Linked DNA regions of Homo sapiens. Changing the gene in region 2 together with the main gene of any one other region gives a genetic interaction. Each region holds a gene or a part of one and is shown on either strand. Other genes may lie near its edges.

Region 1 (10,825 bases), on a different chromosome or scaffold from region 2:
AGTATTCATCATGGACACGTGGACATCTCATTTAATCTTCTACTACCTTTTACCTTTTTTTTTTTTTTTAGTGACCAAGTTTCACTCTTGTTGCCCAGGCTCGAATGCCATAGCACGATCTTGGCTCACTGCAATCTCTGCCTCCGGGATTCAAGCGATTCACTTGCCTCAGCCTCTCAAGTAGCTGGGAATACAAATGTGTGCCACCATGCCCAGCTAGTTTTTTTGTGTATTTTTAGTGGAGATGGGGTTTCACCTTGTTGGCCAGGCTGGTCTCGAACTCCTGACCTCAGGTGATCCACCAGCCTCGGTCTCCAAAAGTGCTGGGATTACAGGCTTGAGCCACCATGCCCGGCCTTCTACTACCTTTTGTAGTGGGTATTTTTTTTTTTTTTTTTGAGACAAAGTCTTGCTCTGTTGCCCAGGCTGGAGTGCAGTGGTGTGATCTCGGCTCACTGCAACCTCCGCCTCCTGGGTTTGAATGATTCTCCTGCCTCAGCCTCCCAAGTAGCTAGGATTACAGGCGCCCACCACCATGCATGCCCGGCTGATTTTTATATTTTTAGTAGAGACAGTGTTTCACCATGTTGGCCAGGCTGGTCTTGAACTTCGTCTGAAAAAACTCCGTCTCAAAAAAAAAAAAAAAAAGAAAGAAAAAGGCTCACCGGAACCTCCACCTCCCAGGTTCAAGCCATTCTTGAACCTCAGGCAATCCACCCACCTCAGCCTCCCAGAGTGCTGGGATTACAGACGTGAGCCACTGCACCCAGTCTGCAGTGGATATTTTTATCCCTGCTTTACAAAAACAAGAAAACAGCAGTACTACAACTTGGCAGGAGTTACATAGTATGAGTCTCTCTCCTACCACTTTAAGAGCTGAATTTTAAGGCCAGGTGCTGTGGCTCATGCCTGTAATCCCAGCACTTTGGGAGGCAGAGGCGGGCAGATCACAAGGTCAGGAGTTCAAGACTCCACCTGACCAACACAGTGAAACCCCTGTCTCTACTAAAAATACAAAAATTAGCTGGGTGTGGTGGTGGGCGCCTGTAATCCCAGCTACTCCGGAGGCTGAGGCAAAGAATGGCTTGAACCCGGGAGGTGAACGATCCAGTGAGCCTTTTTCTTTTTCTTCTTTTTTTTTTTTTTGAGACGGAGTGTCGCTTTTGTTGCCTAGGCTGGAGTGCAATGGCGTAATCTCGGCTCACTGCAACTTCCACCTCCTGGGTTCAAGCCATTCTCCTGCCTCAGCCTCCTGAGTAGCTGGGATTACACGCATGTGCCGCCATGCCCGGTTAAGTTTGTATTTTTAGTAGAGACGAGGTTTTTCCATGTTGGTCAGGCTGGTGTTGCATTCCCGACCTCGGGTGATCCGCCCTCCTTGGCCTCCCAAAGTGCTGGGATTACAGGTGTGACCCACCGCGCCCAGCCTTCTTTTGTTTTCTTTCCTTTTTTTTCTTCTTTTCTTTTCTTTTTTTTTTTTAAGGAAGGGTCTGGCTCTGTCGCCCAGGCTGAAGTGCAGTGTCACCATCTCGGTTTCCTGCAGCCTCTGCCTCCCAGGCTTAAATGGTCCTCCCACCTCAGCCTCCTGAGCAGCTGGGACTACAGGCATGCACCACCATGCCCAGTTAAGTTTTGCATTTTTTTTTTTTTTTTTGAGACGGTGTCTCCCTCTGTTGCCCAGGCTGGAGTGCAGTGGTGCCATCTTGGCTCACTGCAACCTCCGCCTCCCGGGTTCAAGCAATTCTCTGCCTCAGAGTAGCCAGGATTACAGGTGCCCACCACCACGCCTGGCTAATTTTTTTATAGTTTTAGTAGAGACAGGGTTTCACCATCTTGGCCAGGCTGGTCTTGAACTCCTGACCTTGTGATCTGCCGGCCTCAGCCTCCCAAAGTGCTGGGATTACAGGCATGAGCCACCGCGCCTGGCCAATTTTTGTATTTTTTGTATTATTATTGTTATTTTTTGAGACAACGGCTCTCTCCTGTTGCCCAGGCTGGAGGTCAGTGGTGCAAACATGGCTTATTGCAGCCTCGATTTCCCAGGCTCAGGTGATTCTCCCACTTTAGGCTTCTGAGTAGCTGGGACTGCAGGCACCTGCCACCAAGCCCAGCTAATTTTTTGTATTTTTAGTAGATAAGGGGTTTCACCATGTTGCCTCGGCTGGTCTCGAACCCCTGAGCTCAAGCCATCCGCTTGCCTCGGCCTCCTAAAGTGCTGGGATTACAGGTGTGAGCCACTATTCCTGGCCAGGAAACCTTTTCTTACACTTAAAAAATTCTAAATGTATTTCTTTGAGTTCCTTTTTCTCAGAAACCTACACAGACTTCTTCGTAGACAGAATTTTACCTATTTTTGCATCCACACTAGACCAGGATCTAATTTCTAGAGTGCTTGGTTAACTACCATCCTTCATGTTAATTTCAGTGGCTAATGTTTTTGCTCCTCCTTATTTAATATCCTTGTTCAAGCTTAGTTTTCCCTGAGATGTGTTTATTATTTTACAAAATCAATCTAATTTCTAATATCTTTAGGTAGATTTGCGTTTTACCCACTTTAACAGTGTTAACACGTTTGAAATGTCTGTCATCCCTAGCTTTTCTGACTTGTTTCCTGGTTTGAACCTTAATTCAGATGCTCAGCAGAAGGAAATAGGTTGTCTGCTAAACATAGCCACATGGCTGAATCCCTTGACATTGGCAAATAGGGAAAAACTAATGCTAGAATATGGGATGAACAGTCTGAGGGAGTTTTAGAACGATTCAAAAAGCTCAAGTGGTTATAATTAGGTAGTGTTCATACAGTTTTAAAAGCGGAGCTCTGGAACTGGGCGCGGTGGCTAACGCCTGTAATCCCAGCACTTTGGGAGGCTGAGGCAGGTGAATCACCTGAGGTCAGGAGTTCGAGACCAGCCTGACCAATATGGTGAAACCCCATCTCTACTAAAAATACAAAAATTAGCCAGGTGTGGTGGCACGTGCCTGTAGTCCCAGCTACTTGGGAGGCTGAGACAGGAGAATTGCTTGAACCTGGGAGGCAGAGGTTGTAGTGAGCCGAGATCAAGCCACAGTACTCCAGCCTGCGTGACAGAGCAAGACTCTGTCTCAAAAAAAAAAATTTAAAAATAATAACTTAATAAAAAAAAAAAGCAGAGCTCTGAGATGCGTGGTGGTTCCATTTCACAAGCGTTTCCTGAGCATGTAATATGTGCTGAGCAGGCTCCTGGCTCTGGGTGAGCTGGGCAGGTGAGAGGCTTGGGGTGAAGACCCTCTCTGGAGGAGTTCACAGCCTGGTACTTCTTACTTATCTGTCCATTCAGGGCTGGAGTGGCCCAGCTAGGCAGGTGCTGAGGCCACCCAGCTGAAGCCTGAACAGGTTGACCCCTCCGCTGATGTTTGAGCGTGTTTACCACAGGAAGAGAAGCTCCTCAGCAATTGTTCCTTCTTTTCAAAGCAGCATTTCCTATTTCATTTAGAATTAAAGAAAGAATAAGGAATTCTCTAGGCCAGTGGTTTTCAAAATATGGCCACTGGTGCAGCATCACCTGGAATTTTGTGAGAGCTGCAAACTATCCCCCACTCCAGACTTACAGATTTAGAAATAATGGGGCGGAAATCCCTGATCGAATGGAACATTCTGGAGTTCGTCCCCTCACCCAACCTTAAGATGAACTTGGAACAAGGGTGCTCAGCCAGAGGGGCAGGTGAGGCCGCAAGTCCAGCTGCCCCTGTTCACCTAGGTAAGCACATAGACTGTGTCTACCCCCTGGGGGCACCTTGCTCTAAATCATCTGCCCAATCAGGACCAACATGGTCTCTACAACGTCACTTCTGAGAACCACTTGTCCACAATGAAGGGAAGAAGAAAATCCATCAGCACCTGGTGAATTGGGAAACAATGGGGCTCTCACTTGCTAAATGCATTCACCTGTTCACTTATTTAATACACTCTGCCCTGCAGGGTAGAGAAAAGACACATGAGGGGCCCAAGGAACTTAGAACCCACCTGGTTAGAAGAAACTAACAAGCAAGAGACAGGGTTAGAAATATAAATGTGACATAAGGGCAAGCCCCCAAATAAGAAAGAACACAAGAAGAGAAGAAGGGATAGATCAAATCCTAGTGGTCTGGAGAGATTAGATGTGGCTTCTCAAAGCCAACAAAGATAGCACCACCAACAATAATACACCAGCAATAATCGCTATTTATTTTTTCAACTTTTTTATTGAGAGAAAATTTACATAAAATTCACCATTGTAACCATTTATTTATTTATTATTTTTTGAGATGGAGTCTTGCTCTGTCGCCCAGACTGGAGTGTAGTGGCAGGATCTCGACTCACTGTAGCCTCCACCTCCTGGGTTCAAGTGATTCTCCCGCCTCAGCCTCCTGAGTAGCTGGGATTACAGGAGCGCATCACCACACCTGGCTAATTTTTGTATTTTTAGTAGTGACAGGGTTTCACCATGTTGGTTGGCCAGCTGGTCTCGAATTCCTGACCTCAGTTGGTCCATCCTCCTCGGCCTCCCAAAGTGCTGGGATTATAGGTGTGAGCCACCACGCCTGGCTTGTTTTGTATTTTATTTATGTATTTGCTTTTTTAGACGGAGTCTCACTCTGTCGCCCAGGCTGGAGTGCAGTGGCGCAATCTCGGCTCACTGCAACCTCCGCCTCCCGGGTTCAAGCAATTCTCTGCCTCAGCCTCCCGAGTAGCTGGGATTACAGGTGCCTGCCACCACACCCGGCTCATTTTTCTATTTTCAGTAGAGATGGGGTTTCACCATCTTGGCCAGGCTAGTCTTGAACTCCTGACCTGGGGATCCACCCGCCTTGGCCTCCCAAAGTGCTGGGATTACAGGCATCAGCCACTGTGCCCAGCCGTTTTGTATTTTTTTAGTAGAGACGGGGTTTCCCCCATGTTGGCCAGGCTGGTCTCGAACTCCTGGACTCAAGTGATCTGCCTGCCTCGGCCGCCCAACGTGCTGGGATTGCAGGTGTGAGCCACCGCGACCGGCCGCTTTCTCTTTCTTTCGAGACAAGGTCTTGCTTTGTCACCCAGGCTAGAGTGCAGTGGTGCTATCATAGCTCACTGAGCCTAGAACTCCTGGTCTCAAGATACCTCCGCCTTATTCTCCTGAATAGCTGGGTTTACAGGCATGTGCCACCGTGCCCGGCTTTTTTTTTTTTTTTTTTTTTTTTTTGAGTCTCTTGCTCTGTCGCCCAGGCTGCAGTGCAGGTGGTGCAATCTCGGCTCACTGCAAGCTCCGCCTCCAGGGTTCACGCCATTCTCCTGCCTCAGCCCCCGGAGTAGCTGGAACTATAGCGCCCGCCACTACGCCCGGCTAATTTTTTTTGTATTTTTAGTAGAGATGGGGTTTCACCGTGTTAGCCAGGATGGTCTCGATTTCCTGACCTCGTGATCTGCCCGCCTTGGCCTCCCAAAGTGCTGGGATTACAGGCGTGAGCCACCACGCCCGGAGTTTTTTTTTTTTTTTTTTTAAGAGGGAAGTGGGGTTTCTCTATGTTGCCCAGGCTGGTCTTGAATTTCTGGCCTCAAGCGATCCTCTTGCCTCGGCCTTCCAAAGTGCTGGGATTACAGGTGTGAGCCACCACACCTGGCCAATTCAGTCTTAAACCAATTTTCTGAGGCTTCGTTTTGGCAAGGCTACTTATCTGTTTTAAAAATAAACGATGTATTTTAGTAAAAGAAAAAAAATGGAGGAAAAAACAGGGTTTTGATCTCATGGAATAATTATGAGGCTAATCTAATGAGCTTCATAAAATACTATACCCATACATAGTATGCTTGTTATTTTATTGTTTTGTCAGGGTCCAGAGAACTAGGCCACTGTGTTGCTTAGGCACCGTGTCTGCACATAGTTCATTCCGGTGTACATTCATTCATCTTTACACTAGAATGTTAGTTTCAAGAACTCAGTCACCTCGTCTACACTGTCCTTTAATCCCCAATACCTGCGACAGTTCCTGGGGCAAAAACAAATGCTTGTTGAATTAAAAAGAAAAACTGGGCCGGGCGTGGTGGCTCACGCCTGTAATCCCAGCACTTCGGGAGGCCGAGGCAGGCGGATCACCTGAGGTCAGGAGTTCGAGACCAGCCTAACATGGTGAAACCCCGTCTCTACTAAAAATACAAAAACATTAGCCGGGTGTAGTGGTGGGTGCCTGTAATCCCAGCTACTTGGGAGGCTGAGGCAGGAGAATCGCTTGAAGCCGGGAGGCGGAGGTTGCAGTGAGCCGAGATCACGCCATTGCACCCCAACCTGGGTAACAGAGCGACACTCTGTCTCAAAAAAAAAAAAAAATTCCTGTAGAAGCTCCCAAGCCCAATTAAAGCTCAAGGCTATCGTCCACGTAGTGGGTTCCAAATCGCTAAGTTCCCAGGCCAGCAGGGAGAGCGAGCCGAGCGAAGGTCGCCTGTGTCAAAGGCGGGGATTTGCACAGTATTTACATGGAAGCGGAGGAAAGGCTGCTTAGCAACCGGGCTGAGGGGACGGGCTGCACTGCGCACGCGTACATGGGCGGGGCATCTTGCGCATGCGCAGGCGACAGCTCATGGCGTTCAGGGCCTGACGGTTGCTAGGGTGACAGGGACACAACATGGCGGCGGGATCTCTAACGCTCTCCTTCGAGGGACCACCACGGAGATCCTAGTGCGGGACCCCGCCTCAGGGAAGTGGAAAGCAGGGGGACAACCTTCCTGCTTCTTTCTTTTCCGTCCAGTGTCGGCAAGGGGTTGTCACCGGCTTCCGCATCCAAGATGAAGAGTGAGTGGGGCCGGGGAAAGGGGCAGGGACTGGAGAGCGAGTGGCGGGGGAGGGAGGGACTGGGGGAGCTTGAGGAGCTTGAGGGGCCTGTGGGGCCGGGCGTCGTCGCCTTCTGCCGTGGCTCGACAGGCCCGGGAGGCTCCGCATGTGGGCCCCGAATCCCCCTCGGCTGTGAGAAGCCGGTGCCCCTGGGGGAAGCTTGAGGGGTTGGGGCTAGGTTGGGAACTTTGGGGTCTCGGAGAGCCGACTCGAGTTCCCGCTCAGGCATATTTTGGTGCAGGTGCGTGGTTCTTACATTGGAGTTTAGGGAGTTGACTGTGATTCATTTTATTTTATTTTAAATGCTGGCTTGAACCTGACACTCTTTTCCTGAACATTCGGCAGAAAACGGGGGAGCGCTTACAGCGTGGCTCCCTGCCTTTTCATGATACTGGTTTAGTGACCAATTGAGAGGAAAGCTGGGCTGTGTGCTTTATTTTATTTTTTGGGTCAAGCAGTAGTGTTTTATAGGAACCACTTTTTAATAGTAGTTTTGAAGCAACCTTTTAGTTAAAAGCTGTTACTTCAAAGTTGGGAAATGAGGTAGTCATTCTAGAAAATGTAACGGGTAAAAAATTTTCTTTAGTGGGATTTGTGGATTATTGACAATCCAAGTGCAACCAGCTAGAATGATGTTTTTAAAATTATTATTACTGTACAGATATAATTGTTTATGGTTGTGAACCAGAGGTGCAGTAAAAATTCAGACCTTTGCTGTGAAAATATTATGTTAGGAGTAGTTATAATGTTAAATTTGCATTGTATCCTAATTGTCAATGGTGTACATTGCATAACATTTAAAATAATTAATCTCATTCACCCTTTACAAGGCATTTTTATTTTTATTTTATTTTGTTGGATATTGTTTAATGTTTACCTTTTTCATTAATGCACTACAAAGCTGTAGTTAGAATCCAAGGTCTACAAAAGACTTTACACTTTTACTTACAGTGCAGACTATGATACTGCACATATTTTGTACTATATTCATTTTTTTCTTCCCATCTGTTTGTTTTGAAAATTTTCAGATGTACAGGAAAGTTGCAAGAGCAGTACATTGAATATTTATAAACCCGTCCTTCACTTAGCTGCACCATTTTGCCTTATTTTTGTGTGCTCGCTTTCGCTCTGGTGTTTTCTCTCTCCCATTTATGTATTTATTTTCACTGGACCTTTCAAGAGTTAGTTGTAGACTACTAATAATTCACCACTTCTTTCAGCAGTTATCTGCCAAGAACAAGGACATTCTCCTACATCATCACAGTACAAATAACACATTTAGAAAATTTAACAATGATACAATACTCTGATACACAGTCCATATTTCAGTTTTTCCATTTATCCCAATAACATGTGTTATAGTTGTTTATATTTTTTCTATCCAATCAAGAATCACCAATTGTATTCTGTTGTCATATCTCTTTGGTCTCTTTTAATATGGTGTCCCTGCCTTTTGTGTCTTTCATGACAATGATATTTTCATTTTTATTTGGCTGTCCTCTGTAGGCCAAATGACATTTTTAAAGAATCCAGCCCAGTGTTTTGCAGAATATCGCTCAATTTGGATTTGTCTGATTTTCGCCTCATGATTAGCTTCAGCTTAAATGTTTTTACCAGGAATATGTGAGAGGCAACGTTGTGTCTCTGTCAGTGTGGCCCTTCCAGAGTGCCTGATGTCAGTTCGTTGCAGTTTTGCTGAAGTTAGATTTGATCATTTGGTTTATTTATCTACCTTCTTTTTCTCTTAGACTCTTTTTTTTTTTGGACAGGGTCTCTCTGTGTCACCCTGGCTGGAGTGCAGTGGTGCAATCTTGGCTCACTGCAACCTCTGCCTCCCGGGTTCAAGTGATTCTCCTACCTCAGCCTCCCAAGTAGCTGAGATTACAGGTGTGCACCACCACGCCCAGCTAACTTGTATTTTTTGGTAGAGACGGGGTTTCAACATGTTGGCCAGGCTGGTCTCAAACTCCTGACGTCAAGCGATCCACCCGCCTCAGCCTCCCAAAGTGTTGGAATTACAGACGCGAGCCACTGTGCCTGGCCTTCCTCTTAGACTCTTCATACCCCACTACCTAGAGGCATCACTTTCAGTAATTTACTCTCTCTATATATATTATATATAAATATATAAATGTGTATTTCTCCCTTTTTAAAAGACTAATGTTAGCACTGCATGTGTATACCTATATAGAAATATGTACATATGCTGCCTGGGCGCAGTGGCTCACACCTGTAATGCCAACACTTTGGGAGGCCGAGGCGGGCAGATCACGAGTTCAGGAGATCAATACCATCCCAGCTAACACGGTGAAACCCCGGCTCTACTAAAAATACAAAAAATTAGCCAGGCGTGGTGGTGGGCACCTGTAGTCCCAGCTACTCGGGAGGCTGAGGCAGGAGAATGGCGTGGACCTGGGAGGCAGAGCTTGCAGTGAGCTGAGATCGGGCCACTGTACTGCAGCCTGGGCAACAAAGCAAGAGACTCCGTCTCAAAAAAAAAGAAAATAAATATGTATATATGCGTATATATATATAAAATTTACATTTGTGGGCCGGGTGCAGTGGCTCACGCCTGTAATCCCAGCACTTTGAGAGGCTGAGGTGGGTGGATCACTTGAGGTCAGGAGTTCGAGACCAGCCTGGTCAACATGGTGAAACCCCGTCTCTACTAAAAATACAAAAATTAGTCAGGCGTGGTGGCAGGTGCCTGTAATCCCAGCTACTTGGGAGGCTGAGGCAGGGGAATCGCTTGAACCTGGGAGGGGGGCGTTGCAGTGAGCTGAGATCGCACTACTGCACTCCAGCCTGGGCAACAGAGCAAAAAAAAAAAAAAAAGTATATGTGTGTATACATATAAAATTTACATTTATGGGGCGGGTGCAGTGGCTCACGCCTGTAATCCCAGCACTTCGGGACGCCGAGGTTGGCTGATCACTTGAGGTCAGGAGTTCGAGACCAGCCTGGCCAATGTGGTGAAACCCCATCTCAACCAAAAAATACAAGAAAAAAAAAATCAAAACAAAACAAAATACACAAAAAATGTACATTTATGATTTACTTCTTGTAAACTTTTGTTTTTAAAGTATATTTAGTATTGTTTGGTATGTTCTTTTAGATGGTCATTTTGGTAGTTTTCGGTTACTTGGTTTAGTGGTGACATCTTTATTCTCCCTTTCTTCCTTCTACCTTAAAATGTACTCTAAGAATTATTGTAACCTTTTATCCCCCTGGTTTACATCCTGATCATTAAATAAATGATTTAAAAATAGTTAACAATGGAGAGAATATTCCAGAACTGGAAATCACAGAGACAGAGTTATAGAAGTAGAATGATCAGGAAAAGTGAGTAATGGTGAAATTGGATCCATAGCTTGGGGTCAGAGTGGGGCTGGGAATGCTAGATTATTACAGGGGTCTGTCAGGATTTTCTAGGTATATTTTTGTACTTGTTTTCTAGGTGATGCCCTGTGTTTAGGGGTGTGTTATTCTGTGGAGTATTCCTGTCCTTCTTTTTATTTGGCATCGTTTGCAACAGTAGAGAGCAAAGAGTGACACAGTGCAGTTGATAAGAGCGTGGGCTTTGGAACCGGGTGGGCATGGCAGCTTCAGGCATGTTACTTTTTCTTATACTGCTTTTCTTCATTGTTCCGGTTATCTATTGCTGCGTAACAGATCACTTCAATTTTGTGGCTTAAAGGAACAACAGTCCTTCTTGTGGTTCTTCAGGTTGCCTGGATTCAACTAGGCAGGTCTTACTGGAAGTCTCTCATGCACTCAGATGGTGGCTGGAGCTGAAGTCATCTTAAAAGTTTGTTTTTTATTTTGAGATGGAGTCTCACTCTGTTGGCCAGGCTGGAATGAGTACAGTGGCACAATCTTGGCTCACTGCAACCTCTGCCTCCTGGGTTCAAGCGATTCTCCTGTCTCAGCCTCCTGAGTAGCTGGGATTTTAGGCGCACCACCACACCTGGCTAATTTTTATATTTTGAGTAGAGACGGGGTTT
Region 2 (10,607 bases):
ATCCTGGGGCACTGTGATTTGAGAGGTGTGGACATAAAGGCCCATTTAGAGCAGCAACATCTCATTTACTGGGTACTGGGCAAAGTCAACATTTACTGCATGATCTTTCAGGGAAGAAAAAGCTAAACTCAATGTTTGGCAGTTATAAGAGGCCATTCAAAAAGTCTATCTGGTCATTGATTTTGCCAATTTGTTTACTTATAGCTTGAGACTTCTGCAAAATTTTTCTTCCCAACTACTTAAAAGACTGAACTCAGTTACGAGGTTTACACCCCAAGCAATTGAAACCTTTTTTCCCCTACAGAAAGTTTCAGAATAAATGCATGTGTTTACTCAATACTCACCATAACCTTGTCCTTCACATTTCTGACTTTACTGTCAAGCTCTTTCTGTTTGTCTAACATCACTGTGCTCTGAATATTCCCCGACTGAGCCTGTAATGGGAAGGGCATGATTATAGCCATCGTTTTCTTCAGGGTGTGTACTTGCTGGTTACACTCCAAAGTCAAGTCCCCACTTGCCTTCCAGATCTTCTGACATGTACTACAGGCTTCCTGCTTATGTGTCAATATGAAATTTTTCCCAAGGCCCTGGAAAATGCTGGCAAACTGTTAACAAGGTTACAAAAAAACTAGGCTCAATTCATGTCTAAAATAAACAGTATTTCTGGGAGTTTCCATTAATTCATACAGTTGCATGGTACCACGCTGGAATTTAGTTCACGGTTTCTCAGATACTATACACAAGATTACTCTCATTAACTCAGTCCTTATTTATCTTAAAGCTTTCTGATTCAAAGTGTGGTCCTCAGACCAGCAGCATCTCACCACCTAGGATCTTGTTGGAAAATCTCAAGGGCTAATATGATTAGGCAATCAGAAAACCCTATTTTAACACAATTCCGGGTGATCCAGAGGTATACTGAAATATGAAATCACTCCATTAAGGCCATCAATGAAAATCTGCTACTATAAAGTCAATAATGAATATAAACCCAGACTTGCCTGGGAGTATTCAGTCCTATTTTTGATAATCAGAACACTCAGAAGTGACAGGGTCTCTACTTGCTTCATACACCAGATGTACCCTGCACATACTAGGTACTAAGTAAATGTCAGGCAATGCTCTAGGCTCGGGTGTTAGAGTGGTAACCAGTGATCCCTGTTCTCATAGAGATTAAATTCTAGAAAGATGTTATTTTTTTAGAGTTAAATCCCCCACACAGCAAAAACTGTGCTTGTCAACCTTTCTTACACAGTGCCCTATACAGCACAGATTCTACGGGGGTGTTTTTATATGTGCAATTGTATCATCTTTTCTTCATGTCTGGAATTTTCCTTATATTAGAAAGCCTTTCCCTATTGACATTACATCATTCACTCATTTCCCTAGCACTTGCAAGGTTTCCTTTTTTTCTTTTTAACTTTTAGATCGCTGATATATTTGTTTATTCTCATGATCAGAGTGAAGTATGGGTCCACTTTTTGCTTTCACTTTTTTTCCAGTTAGCTTTCCATTTGTCTTAACAGCATTTACTGAAAAGTCCATTATTTTCCCCAGTGCTCTGAGCTGCCAACTTTATCACATGAATTTCCATATGCACACGGGTTTCCTTCTAGATTTTTCTCTTCTTTCCCATTGGCCTTTTTATTCATAAGCCTGAACCCTTGAAGGATGTTTGACTATAGAGGATTTATAGTCTGTCTAGTAGGGCCAGTCCCATTTCATTGCTCTACTTGTTCAGAAGTTGCCTCGCTACTCTTGCATGTTTATTTTTCATAAATTTCAGAACAAATTTGTGTAGCTCCAGAAAACAACTTGTTGGTATTTTTATTGGAATAACATTAAAATTACAAGTTAACTCAGGGAGAGCTAACATCTTTATGATGTTGTTTTTAATTCTTATGCTTCTAATGGTTTTCTCTTGTCTAATTGCATTGGCCAATACCACCAATACGATGCTAAATAGCAGTGGAAACACAGCATCCTTGCTGTGTTTCTGACTTACTGGAGTTTTCCCAGTTAGGTAAGATACTGTCTCTAGAATGGAGATATATATATTTTTTTGTGTTAAAGAGGTACCCATCAATTCCTATCTTATTCAATGTTTTTATGAGGAATGAGTATTGAATTCTGTTAGATCTTTTCAGCTTCTGTGGAAGGAAGTAAATGCTTTTTTCTCCTTGTAGCTATTAATTTAGTGAATTGCATTAATAGGTTGCCCAGTCATGGACTACCCTTGTAACCTATAATAAATCATATTTGGTCATGTCCTTTCTTAATGTAGTATTTAATTCTGATCCCTAATATCTTATTGAGGACTTTTATATTGATACTCATAAGTAAAATTGGTCCATAATTTTTTGTTTTATCTTTATCAGGCATACGTCATCAAAGTTATTCTCTCTTCATAGGAAGTTTTCCTTCATGTTACATATTCTCCAACAGCAGAAGTTCAAAGCATGTGAATTGTATCAGCTGTAAAGTGTGTATTAGAAATACATGAATGTTACTGGTATCCTCTGTAAGTCCAAGGTGCCACATATCACTCAGTGACAAAAGGGGTTTCTCTGGGCGGTTGGAATAAGTTGTCACTTTGAGGAGTTCCATACAGCTTTCTGCCTGTGCAGGGAAATCTTTGCTGTTGTCTAATTCTGACATGGTTTGGATCTGTGTCCCCACCCAAATCTCATGAATTGTAATCCCCATTGTTGGAGGTGGGGCCTGGTGGAAGGTGACTGGATCACGGGGACAGTTTCTCATGAATAGTTTAGCACCATCCTCTTGGTACTATCCTTGTGATCACGAGTTCTCACAAGATCTGGTTAAGTGTGGAGCACCTCTCCCCTGCTTCCTCCTGCTCTGGCCATGTGATATGTGTGCTTCCCCTTCACCTGCTGCTATGACTGTAAGTTTCCTGAGGCCTCCCCAGAAACTGAGCAGATGCCAGCACCATGCTTCCTGTAACAGCCTGCAGAACCATAAGTCAATTAAACCTCTTTTCTTATAAATTACCCAGTCTCAGGTATTTCTTTATAGCCATGCAAGAACAGACTAATACAACTTCTAAGCCAGCAGGATGTGGGCACGGTGTCCTGTGGGCTTTGTAACAGCTGGGACACTACACCTAGAGAGAGGGACCAGGCCACTGGAGAATTCTGACTTCCCAGGCCTCCTCCCAAATGACCAAGGCTCGGTTTAGAGAACAGGGATATAAACAATGGCTGTAAAACAGCAGCTACATCCCCAGCTTCTACATCCCCTTTCTACTGACTTGCTGGGAGATGCTTGGTGGAAAAACCTGGTGACTGTGGCAGGGCCTAAGAAATCTCCTGCTTCCAACTTGGGCAGTAGTCCCTCCAAGTCACTCAAACCCTTGGTGCTCTCTTACCCCTTCCACTCATCCCTCCCTGCTTCCCTCCACCCTGCCCCCATCTGCTAAGCAGATGCTTGGCTGCTCCTGTACACTTTAGTACTGATACCACTTTCACAGTGAGTCCTTAACTTTTTAACTTTCTAAGAAACCAGGAGTACTGAAACCACGGGAATTTCAAACACTGAAGTTGGAAGGGACTTCGGCTGTCATTGACTCTTACTTTCTCGTTTCACTACTGTACCTCTAGAGACCTTGTTTGGATGGGAACTTGGTTACTCCAGACCCCAGAGCAAAGAAAAGTCTTCTGCTCAGGAAGGGGGTCCTTTCCAATGGAGTGAGCAGTTGTCCAAGTAAGGGAATAGGCACTCCATGGGTGTGAGAAGTTCCAGCCAGAAAGCCCTCATATCCCATCCCACAGATTAGAAAACTGAAAAGTGACTTCTCCAGTGAACTAGTTTTAGAGTTGGACAATACTGGGTTTAAATTCCAAACCTACTTCTCATTAGCTCTGTGGCTCTGAGTGAAGTACCTGACCTCTAAACCTTAGTTTTCTCATCTTTAAAATGGGGATAAGAATACCTAACTTCAGTGATAGTTTCGAAAGTATTTACTCAAATGAAATAATGTTTATAAAGTGCTTAGCACAGGGCCTGAAACATGATAAGCACTCAGCATATGGTAACCATTAGTCCTTAAGAACACAAAGATGGAACAGCAAAGGAAGCTTAGAATCCACCTCATGTCTTTCCCTCCCACCTGAAAGAAATTCTCCCCATCCCTTCAGACCCTATGGACCTAAATTTTTGTCTAGACATGCAACTAGCTTTTTCACCACAAAGAAAAAAAGAAAGAAAAAAACTTAGTGTGCTGTAAGACAGCACACGAAACATTTATAGTCTACTACAGTGTGTATAGCATAATATTCTCTTAAATGTATTTTCTAAAAGCTCTTATATTAAAAAACAATGGGAACAATAATTTCCCATCTCGGCATGTCTATAGAATTTTGTGGTCTCTAAATGATCTGAACTAACTCGGAATTTTGCATGTTTTTAACTTGTTGAATCTGTTGAATCCCCATGTACCTATCACAGTTTCAACAATTAGCATTCATGGATGGCCTTGTTTCATCCCTATTCTCCTTACTCTTCTAGTCCCCAAATGGGATTATTTGAAGCAAATACCAGACATCACACCATTCCATACACATATACTTTAGCATGAATAGAATATACACAGTCATGTACCACATAACAATGGTTCAGTCAACGATGGACCGCGTATATGACAGTGGCCCCATAAGATTAGAATGGAGCTTTATGGGGGTACCACCTTTTATCTTTTACACACTATCTGTACTGTACCTTTTCTATGTTTAGATACACAAATAACATTGTGTTACAATTGCCCATAGCGTTCAGTACAACTTCATATTGTACAGGTTTGTAGCCTAGGAGCAATAGGCTTTACCATATAGTGTAGGTGTATGGTAGGTTATACCACCTGGGTTTGTGTAAGTGCACTCTATAATGTTTGCACAAAAACGCGATCACCTAGTGGTGCATTTCTCAGAATGTATCTGTGTCATTAAGTGATGCATGTCTGTATTAATAAAATAAAGTTACTTCAACAAGGGGGGAAATGGTGAAGAAATGTTTCTGACCTACCTAGCCAATAGTTGGCTGGATAACTTTGGAAAGGAGGCACCTATTGTGCCTTTTCCCTTTCCCTGACATCCCCAGACACCCAGAAACTTCCCTCACACCCCAAGAAGGCTTTGCAAAGGTGTTCACGGACTCAGGTGTCCTCTGAGAGGCTCAAAACAATCCCCAGATTACCTACATTTTTAATGGGGAGGGAGCTCAAAAGCTGGTAAACCTTCAAGATCCAAAGCCAGGGGATGAGGTTCATGTGGGAGAGCAGGGGTCACCTACTCTGCTGCCAATGCCATCTCTGGGCCAAGGGGCCAAATGTGAGGATGACATGCTTGCAGCTGGGGGAAACAGGTTGTCCTTCTGCCCATCTTTGCTCCTGGCTGTCCTTTCAAGTCTATTAGAAATACAGAGGAGGCCCACGCATACTACTTTTAGGATGGAAGCCCCATATAATCAAAACTGCCGGCTGAAAATCTCCCAGGTATATGCCAGGTTAGAGACAGGCACACCTCTTTCAGAGGAGACAACCTGGCCAGCTTCTCCTCCAGCGTTGATATACACCTTTGTTCCCTAGGCTGGGTACCAGATGAGCTAGCCAGCTTGAGTTTAGAATAAGCAATATGTATCTTTACATGCTCAGTTCAGCAAGATGCTATCAGTGTGACAAGAAGATGGGAACTATACGCCTAGGGAAGTGACAGGATTACAAGGACTGGGACAAATGCTCAGGCAGTGTGTGGAGAATGGCATCCTCCACCACACCTAAACTCCCTCCCTCTCCACTGTCACACAGTTCACTTCGGTAGTTATTTGTTGGTGAAATGCACACAGGATGCATACTGTGTCCTCTGGCATCCATATAGCAATGGGCTCCTCCAGAACAATCCATAACATGGTGGCTTCACACTGCCTGCCTGTTGGCTTGTTGTCACCACCCCAGTGCTCAAGAAAGGAATACTAAATGCCATAGCAAATTCAAAACTCTGCTGAACCCTGACAACTAGGAAGGTTTGTATTAGGATTAATAAAACAATGATCAAAAATCTTGATACTAGTACAACTCTGACTCATTTACTGTTTGATGCCTTGAATATTTAATAGGTATCTTGATGTTGCTCAAAACAAAGCCCTTGATTTTCCCATCAGCCTCCTTTTCTCTCCACAAACCTATTGAGTCCTACAAAACTCCTGCCCCTGCCCCCTCCTTGCCTTCCCAGCTCCGTGTACAGCATTACCATTTTTCAAGGGGTTCTAGTAGCTGCTGTAGAGCCATCCTTGACTTTCTGCTCTCACTCCTGCATCTAATCCTTCAACATAAGGATCCTTCTATATTGGTATCACATCCAAAGCATAACCTGAATCTGTCCACCTCTTCCTACCTCCACTGATTCTACTGAGCGCAAGCTTCCACTGCCTCTACCTTGGACAGCTGCAAGAACCCTCTATCTGCCTGCTTCCATTCCTGTGCCAGCAACTCAGAGGCCTTTCCTGACCCTGATCTAAAGGAACAACCCCACTCCCAGCCACTCCATGAATTCAGCATGTTATCTTCTCAGCACTTTATGCTACCCAGAAGTATCTTGTTTATATGTTCTCTCTCCTCGTTAGAACTTAATTCCATTAGATTAGGATCTTTCTTAAAGCCTGGTTCTATAAAATCTCTAAATCTGATTCTCCCACTTCTTGGGGCTATAAAATTAGAGAGATATTCATCATTGCTTTGACATGGGCCCTAATAGTATTTGATGAATGAATACATTTTTATTTTATTACAGTTTATGTGTTCAATGAGAAAAAAGTACCTGATTAAATCTCTGGGCGTTTTCCAGAATTTTCCTTTCTTCCTTCAGACAGCTGTAAATGATCATAGACATCTGGATTGGGTCTTCCTGAAAATTATCCTAGATTTGAGTGGTTAGAACAAAAATAAATTAAAATGCAGAATGTTTACTTTATTGTGTATTGTAAGTTGATATGAATTTGTTTATATTCTCCGGGAAACCTCATCTCTCATCTATTAAATTCTATATAAGCTATGTTTGTTAAAATCAAAATATTTCTTTCACGAATTATGACAAAAATTGCTTTAACTTTCTAAGTGCAGGTACCTAACGTACTTTTTGATTTAAAAACAAGTATTTTCACATATGGTTCACATAATATTTTTACTTTAATATCTTTCCATATTTCTTAAGGCCAATTATCTTTGGTTAGGATCCCGAGACAATGCAAATGATATAAAAACTATACATGACATTCCTCAATGAATGCATCTGTTGGTCTAAGCTTTGAACTAGACCAAAGATATTCATCTAGGGTTTTCTGTTGCCATTGTCAAAGCTAGTTTGCAAAACACTACCAATAGCAATAATGGCTCTTTATACAGGTACATTCATGCAAGGTCTGTATGAGAACAAATTTCTGTAAAGTTAATTTGATTTCCCCACTCGTAAATAAAATCATAAATACATTCACAAAGGAAAAAAAACAACTTCCAATTACCTAAGCTGAAAAGTTCAGTTGTATTGTATGAAAGAAGAAAATGATAGCTTTCACCTCCATTAAAACAGAAAAGTTCTGTTATTACACAACATAAATATGATAGCCACCCCAAGGGCATGCTGGGAGTACATCTGAAGAACCCCTAAAACTCTATAGCATGTTCTCTCATGTCTGGATCTTTCTTTGACTTTCTCTTCCAGGAGAGGCCAACTCCACCAGAAGCAAGGCAAGGTGGAGTCTAGTTCCTGAAGTCACCTGACTTCCTTAGGTGAAAGTCAAACCTTTCCTGTTTTATTCCTCATTTGCATAGCAAGGACCTGAACCTAACCACTAATGTTCCCTGGAGCTTTAATGTATTACTATAGATCATTGCTCTTAAAATGTAGCCCCTTTTCTTTGGTTTAAATATTGACAATTTTTAGTAAAACAAAATTATAGCATCACATTTTTCTCAGGATTACTGATACCTAAGAGGTGATACATTTAACCCTAAAAATTCCTTCTGTGTTTATAAAATAAATTGGTATCTTATTTTACTTATGCTATATTTACTGATGCTGTAGAAAACATAAATGGAGTTAGTCTCTATTACTTCTCTAAATACCAATAAGTGTGTGCTCAATTGTATTTGCTGAATGAAGAAAACTGCCTTCCATAAACATGAGAACATTTCAACTAAAATACAAAAACCAGGTCATACCTGAAGATTACGCTTGCTTTTCCTTATGTTATGCTGTAGCAAGAAGTTATTCTCCAAAGAAAAGCGACTATATTGATCATCCAGCTGTGACAGGAGGTCATGAAAACGGATGGTGGCAAATGAAACATCATTGGCAGCGTGCTCCCTAGGAGATTTAACATTTACACATTTCATTCTAGAACTAAATGTCTATGTAAAACAGACAAAACAAATGTTGGTTTCCTTATTGAAATTATTAAAAATAATTTAAGTATTTTCTTAGGTTTATTTTCTTCTTTTGAAACTGACATTGCTTTTAGCAGCAGTTTATGTGGTATTTCTCTTATGTGCAATTAGCACAAAAAATTCTAAACTCTAAGAGATTGTGCATGACAGTGTTCATGGTGACTATCTCTGAAGGGGGAAAAGTCAACAGGGGACCCTTCACTTTCTATGTCAAATACTTTCAGGACGTTTTTAAATTAGCAAATAATAAATTTTAAAGTAGAACACCTATCAGTTAAAAAAAATCCCCTTAATTTTACTACCTTCTTCATATTTCTAATCAATGTTTAACCATTAATTTGGCTTTATTTCTTTTAAATTACTTCTTTCTATAGTCTGGATCCTAAGTTGGAAAATAATCGGTGTCAGTATTCCGTAACTTGTCCAAAGCATTTAGGAATATCTATCATAAATTAAATTTGGCAAAACTGTATAAAAGTGCTTAATGACTAATATACTTAACTTTGTTGAGACACTTTTTGGCTCAACTTTGTTGAGTCATTTTTTAAATCAACAAACTTTTCTACAACAAATAATTCCAGTGGCCATTGATGGAATTCATCTTCCAGTAAACATGGCCCCAAGTCACTTAATCAACCAGTACTTTTAAGGTGTAAACTTCTTCTTCTGTCTAGTGAATTTTCCTTACCAGTCTTGCTTTTCTAACCACTGTGCCAGGTACTGTCTGATTTCCATGGGAAAACTGTCATCATAAAGCTGGTGAACCTGCTCCAGGAATTTTGAGTCAAGCTGCTGAAGTTCGTACCACTGAGACATCCTATAGGGAAAAAGAATATACATTCTTTCTATGTATATGGAAACCATAGCTCCAAAGAAAGCCTTCCTAGCATCAGGTTGTACTCTTAAATATCTTGCTTAATCCAAAACATAGTTTGTCCCAGGAATATTTTATTTAAATGGCATTTATAGTCTAAAGCCTGTTTTTAATTGAGTTTGGGGATGAACTTTTTTTCTCCTCCACGAAACACATCTTCATGTCTTTGCTTATTGTCAACATATCAGGGCAGCCTTCTCTGGCCTCTTTTATTTAAACTGCAACCACCTCCCACCCTGGAAACATGCTCTCTCTTTTCCCTGGTTTATTTTTCTTCATAGTACTTACACCACCATCTGACCTACCACATATTTTATTTTCATTATTGTCTGTTTTCACCACTTGAAGGGATGGATGTTGGTGGAGGATTCTGTGCACTGGTGTATCCCTAGAACAATGTCAACCACATAGTAGGTATCCAATAAATATGCCTTTAAAATGAGTTTGTGATTTTATCAAATAAATACATGAAAAACATTATTTTAATTAGACTTGCTTTAAGACAAATCACAAGACTCTCCCAAAATTGCTCTCCTACAAATCACAGTACATTTGTAATTTAACTCAAATATTTTCAAACTTCTGTTTTATATTTATGATTCATATGGTAAAATTCATTATTTTTCTTATACACATTTAAAAAGATATATTTTCTTCTTTGCCTACTACAAACAATAAATCTGGCATAAAGAAGTAATGATTTTTAAAGATTAAAACATCATTAAATGTAATTTAAAAGGATAAAGTAACACTTAGCTTTTTGGATAACTGTTAAGTCCATTTTTACATAGTGATCCTAAAGATTCAAAATCACAACAAAAACTTGATATAAGCAAGTCCTAAAATTCATTAGGAAAACGGAGAGTCTCCCATGACCATCATGTAACTTAGGATTTATATCAGCACACAGGTGGCAATATGCAGAGCAGACACAAGTGAATCTTGTCCTGCCAGACCTCTGGGGAAGGAGTCTGGATTTTCAAGTAGGGCATGGAAGAGTGTGTATGCATACTTGTAGCCGAGCACATGTATGCAGGCATGAGGTCACGCCTACTCCACAAATGTCCTTCCAAAGGAGTGTGAGGAAATGTCTGGCCTATAAAGCTAGTTATCCTCATATATACCAGTAGAAACGGACCCAAGCCCAGCCCCTTGGCACTCCTGCTGAAGCAATTTGATTTTTCAGTTCAGTTTTATTTTACCTGAGTGGAAAAATCTGTGGCTGTCTCCCTCCCTGCTTGGTAACTAATAAGGATCTACCTAAAGCAGATATGC

Evidence for each region.
Region 1: changes in STAT1 (region 2) and MOK together harm fitness more than expected from each alone (negative genetic interaction), as found in Homo sapiens cells (one study listed by BioGRID).

The regions. Positions count from the first base shown.
Region 1 is NC_000014.9:102,300,919-102,311,743, reverse strand, and holds the start of MOK (MAPK/MAK/MRK overlapping kinase), read left to right. Parts: upstream 1-6,579; 5' UTR 6,580-6,775; coding exon 6,776-6,782; intron 6,783-10,825. UniProt on the Homo sapiens protein: Able to phosphorylate several exogenous substrates and to undergo autophosphorylation. Negatively regulates cilium length in a cAMP and mTORC1 signaling-dependent manner.
Region 2 is NC_000002.12:191,000,730-191,011,336, forward strand, and holds part of STAT1 (signal transducer and activator of transcription 1-alpha/beta), read right to left. Parts: intron 9,721-10,607; exon of another isoform or gene 9,643-9,720; coding exon of another isoform or gene 9,638-9,642; intron 9,276-9,637; coding exon of another isoform or gene 9,275-9,275; coding exon 9,147-9,274; intron 8,415-9,146; coding exon of another isoform or gene 8,379-8,414; coding exon 8,234-8,378; intron 6,933-8,233; coding exon 6,834-6,932; intron 435-6,833; coding exon 345-434; intron 1-344. UniProt on the Homo sapiens protein: Signal transducer and transcription activator that mediates cellular responses to interferons (IFNs), cytokine KITLG/SCF and other cytokines and other growth factors.